Regions from separate parts of the Homo sapiens genome. Here region 1 is linked to region 2. Evidence: fine-mapped expression QTL. Tissue or cell type: whole blood. Region 2 holds a variant in brackets; the other region holds the start of a gene. All regions are shown on one strand. Distances are from middle to middle.

Evidence for each region. PIP is the estimated chance that this variant, and not a neighbour inherited with it, causes the effect.
Region 1: it holds the start of LINC00989, and the variant in region 2 is fine-mapped to the expression of LINC00989 in whole blood (INTERVAL, PIP above 0.99).

Annotation. Positions count from the first base shown.
Region 1 is chr4:79,491,037-79,493,701 of GRCh38, reverse strand. LINC00989 (long intergenic non-protein coding RNA 989) reads right to left here and starts at 1,109. Exons shown (of 4, transcript NR_038826.1): 1 at 928-1,109; 2 at 117-550.
Region 2 is chr4:79,451,183-79,454,036 of GRCh38, reverse strand. No RefSeq gene overlaps it. Among named protein-coding and RNA genes, the nearest start is that of LINC00989, 40 kb to the left of the region's middle. The variant T/C (reference allele first, on the strand shown) is at 1,359.

The sequences.
Region 1 (2,665 bases), 40 kb before region 2:
AAATTTAGAAAATTGAACTTTCTGTGTATCTGTATTAGTCAGGGTTCTCTAGAGGGACAGGACTAATAGGATAGATATATATATAAAGCAGAGTTTATTAAGGAGTATTGACTTACACAATCACAAGGTGAAGTCCCACAATAGGCCATCTGTAAGCTGAGGAGCAAGGAAGCCAGTCCAAGTCCCAAAACTTCAAAAGTGCAGCCTTCCGTCTGTGGCCAAAGGTCCAAGAGTCCAAAAGCTAAAGAACTTGGAGTCTGATATTCGAGGTCAGGAAGCATCTAGCATGGGAGAAAGATGAAGGCCAGAAGACTCAGCCAGTCTAGTCTTTCCAAATTTCTCTGCCTGATTTTATCCTAGTTGCACTGGCAGCTGATTAGATGGTGTCCCCCAAGATTGAGTATGGGTTTGTGTCTCCCAGCTCACTGATTCAAATGTTCATCTCCTTTGGTGACACCCTCACAGACACACCCAGGAACAATACTTTGCATCCTTCAATCCAATCAAGTTGACACTCAATATTAACCATCACGGAATCCTTTCCAAATCCCTAAAAGAAAAAATAATAATAATATAGTCAATATAATAAACATCAGCTAGAAAAGAAATAGGTGAGCAAAATAGAGAATCTCTGACAAGATCAGAAAGAATAATATAATTAGTGTAAAACGTTTTAGTAGTTCAATTAAAAACTAAAGTTTCTCAAATTAAAACATTATTTTAAAATCTTTACTTAATAGAAAAAGACCAAAAGTCAAATGTCAGAGAAGTAGTAAGAAATTTTTTAAATGGCAGAAATATATCATAAATACAAAGAAAAATAAGGAAATAATAGCAATCATAATGTAGAATAAAATATAATTCGAGATAAAATTGGTGAAGAATCACACCAGGAACATATCAGAAAAACCAAAAGAATTCACAGACCATTTGAAATAAGCGGCTTGCCACTGAAAACTCCATGAGACTGCCAAAAAACTGAGTGCCTGAAGTGTGAGAGGGGGAAATCCATCTCCAAACATACATCGGCCCTGGAGAACCTGAAAATCCAGAAGACGGGAGAAGAGTTTAACCTTACCTAGAGCTGAAATGAATTTAGAGAGCCCAGTGAAATAGAAAAGTAAAAGAAGTGGGAAAAGAACTGCAGGCACTCTTGTTCCCCAGGGAAGCCAAGGATAGCCATTTCTGAATTTATCTCACAGGGGTCCTTGAGGAGGGCAGCCAGTGGAATTGGGGAAGGTCCACAGGGAGAAGGAGACTTCCAGCTGAACTTTGTAATAATTTCCAAAGACGACAAATTTTCCTGGGCAGAGTCCAGGGGGTTGGGGTGTGGGGAACGGGAAGTACAGATAGGAGCACAGAAGCCGCAACAGGAAGGGAAGGGTGAGGACTGAAAGCCATGCTTGCTCTCTCAGCAGGGAGTCTTGTAGCCTGGGGCAGGATCTCAGCCCTGTGCACCAGAGGCCTGGGTATAAATTGGGCACTGTTGGCTGCTGGGGGAGTATGGCAGGAATGAGACTGGCCTTGCTGGTTTCATGGGAGCTGGGTAAGGCCTGTCACTGATGGCTTTCCACCACTTACCTGGCAACCTGTAGGAAGCAGCAGAGGCAGCCATAATCTCCCATGGAACATAACTCCATTGGCCTGAGACACACCCCATATCCCTCAAAGTGGCCACTGCAAGCCCAAGGAGAGTCTAGGCTGAGACCTGCCTAACCCTGCCCCCACCTGATGGTTTTCTCTACCCTTCCTGGTAACCAGAGACAAAAGATATAAACTTGTGGGAGCTCTATGGCCTCACCTATTACCTGAGACGACTGAATATTTACCCTGGCCAACTTAGGGCAAGCCTGTATCCCCCTTCTACTACCGCAGCTGATGCTCTCTTAAAAGTGCCACCTCCTGGCTGGAAGTCAACCAACTCAAGCCATTACAGCAACTTAGAACAATCCTACTCCAAGAAAGGAGAAAACACCACCTGTAACACCCTGGCTAACCAGAGGTCCTGAGTCTGTCCACATGACAGCTTCACTGCTAGCAAACCAGCATTCGAGAAAATCTGCACACTAAACAAACTACAACCAGCACTCTCACAGAGTCCACTTTGCTTCCCTGCTACCTCCACTGGGGCAGGTACTGGCATCCACAGCTGAGAGACCTGAAGACAGGTCTTCACAGGATCACATCACAGAAATCTTTGCAGACACTCCCCAATACCAGCCCAGAGCCCAGTAGCTCCACTGGGGGACTAGACACAGAAGAACAATAACAATCACTGCAGTTTTATTCTCAGGAAGCTCCATTTCTAGGGGAAGAAAAAGAACACCACATCAAGGGATCACCCCATAGGAAAAAAAAATCAGATTAGCAGCCCTTGAGTCCCAGATCTTTCCTCTGAAATAGTCTACCCAAATGAGAAGGAACCAGAAAAACAATTCTGATGATATGACAAAGCAAGATTCATTGACACCCCAAATGATCACACAAGCTCACCAGCAATAAAAAACAAACAAAAACAAACAAACAAAAAAAAAAACAAGGTAGTCAGGCAACAACTAGCAGGATGAATAGAACAGTACCTCACATCTCAATAATAACATCGAATGTAAAAGGCCTAAATGCTCCACTTAAAAGATACAAAATGACAGAATGGATAAGAATTCAC
Region 2 (2,854 bases):
CAGCATGATAGTCTCTTGCTCCCTGGTGCTTTCTTAAGTTTAAATTAGTTTCCAATAAAGATGCTTTTGCACCTTGCAGGGGGAAAGCATTGTTTTTAATACACTTGTAACTAATGCTGCTGGTCCTTGGGGAGTTTCAAAGGACCTCAAAGGCAATAGTTCTCTACCCAGGAGCAAAGAAGCCATTACAGCTTGTACTGGAAGATTTAATAGGTGTCATAATTTATCATGTAAACCGAAAAGTGTTTCTTAATTAAGTGCGTACATTAATGAATTTTTTAATTTGATCCCTGTAAGTACCTTGCTATACTAATTGCAATATTCTACACATTAGTCATCCGCTGTTGCCCTTGGCTATTTTCTACCCTGAGAGGAAGAGAACGAGAGCTTTTCAGTTAAAGTTCATTTAACTCTTTCCACCCAACAAATTAGATTTAGTCTTACATTGGAGTGACAGCTGTAGTTGAATTTCTCCGAGCTTTCACAGTACTTGCATGGGAGAACCAGCTTACATTTCTGTTATTTTCAAATAATAGGAATTTGGGGTAACTGGCCAGAAACTGAAGCCCTGCCCTTTCCTAAAGGGTTACTTATTTCAGTTCTCTTAAGACTGAAGAGTTTTATAAGGGATAAGATGTAGAAGGGACACATTTTCTTCTATTCTGCTGTAAGAGTCTGACATAGCATGATTAATGAAAGGCTTAAATTTGTATAATACGTCCCAGACCCAAAAGAATTAAAGGAAAAAATAAAACTTAGGTGTATTTACTTGACTAGACATTAGATCTACAATAAATACAGTGTTATTTGTAATAAAAAGGAAGTACTTATGAGGCCGAAAAGCACTATTATCATACACTATGGTACAATATTATTGTAACTACGAAAAAAGTGTTTACAGGGAAAATATTTAGAAAATAATATGTTCAACCATTAGAATGATTGCATTCTGTTGATAAAGTTACGGGTAAGTTTTTTCTTTCTCTGTTTTCTAAATATGATGTTCATGTGTTATCTAATAGGGAAAACCCCTTTATTTTTTTAAAAAATAGCAAATATTATTGTATGAGAAGACTTTAGGTTTCAGACTGTTTCAGTTAGAGATACTCTTCATTTAAATAGCTATTATATAGATTTTTAATATTTTTCATATGTTCAAATTTGTCCACAGTTGAGAGTTAACAAAAAAAAAATCACCGTTACAAGGTATTATTAAAGGATAAAAAGTGAAAAAAAAGAAAACCTTTAACTTTTTTTTCCTTAAGTGGACACGTTAGTTTATTCAGAAGAAAACAATTGTGTTATAATAAATTGTATTTGGTTTTCTTACAGTTAGAGACACATAATTTTCTCTTTTA[T/C]GTGCTATCTACAATAACCTGATTGAGCTGCATATGAAAATCAACAAATGAAGAAAAGTAGAATATTATTTAATTGACACAGGTACCAATACCTTACTTTTTATATATTTACGTTTTACAAATAACTCTCATACCAAGAGAACTCATTTTGAATCAGTTCCGATATATTTAGCCATGGATTTTTAAAAAGAGATTTAAATCGAGTCTCTATTATTGTGTCACATGAATAGAATTGTGAAATAAGCTACAGGATGCCCAGTTAAATTTGAATTTCAGATAAATAATGAATAATTTTTAATGTAAATATATTGCATACTATTCGCTAAATCTGTCAACCCTACAAATGAAAGAATTAGGATGCATCAGAATCAACTAGATAATTTCTGTTATTTTGTTGTCGTTGCTGCTGTTGTTGTTGTTTCATATGCACACCTCACTCCAGAATTTTACTCTTCAGGGGTTGAGGTCCACTGATCTAAAAATAAAAGATTATTACTCCAAATGATTTTTCATAGGGACTGCAATCTAGTATTTGGGAACCACCGTTGTGCAGCAGAGCTACTCACACTTTAATGTACTTAAGGATCACTGAGGGATCATATTAAAATGCAGATTCTCATTTGTAAATTGGGTTGGGTGTTGAAGGTCCCCATTTCTACCAAATTCCAAAGTTATGCTGATGTTCCTTGTCCTTAAATCACATTTCAAGTAGCTAGAGAGTTTAGATGATCTCTGATGTCTGTGTTAGAATTTATTGATTCTATGATTCTGTTTTTACATACATTATTTCATTTTATTAAAATTGTTGTGTATGATGACAAATTTCTCATTATCGAATTCTTATGCAGTACATCGCAACTCAGAAAATTCAGTATGGTATTATAACATTAGACTTTCATAATTTTTGTCTTGACCAGATAGTAACAATAAAAGTTGATCCAAAATATCAGGACTATAATATCATTCTTCATTTTTGAGATTTGTTTCTTTTTTAATGAGCACTTATTGTACCCCTGCTATGTATCAGGCTCCACTGTTGATCAGCAAAGGAAACTATTCAGAGAAATCTATAGGTTTATTTAAAATGGGAAAAGTTGAACTACGTTTCTAACCTTGTGGTTTCACCACTCTTTCTCATCATCTAGTGGTCAACTTGCTCCTTTCTTGGACTGTTTGTACTGGAGCCCTCTTTTCCTATGCATCTTTATATAGTTGGCTCTTTCTCAGCACTGAAGTCTCAGGTCACAATTTCAGCACTCCTTAGAGAGGGTTTCTCTAACTGCCTCTAGGCAGAAAAGTACTCTAGTAGATACCAGCCTACCACTGTTTTATGATATTACTATTTTTAATGATCTGAAATTCTCTTATTTATTTATGCATTTATGTAACCATGTAAGTACATGCTATTTTCTGTACCCTGCCCCACAAGTGAACAGCAACCTTGTATGTTTTTTCCACTGTGATATTTCATAAGTACTTATGAATTAGATGAGTCT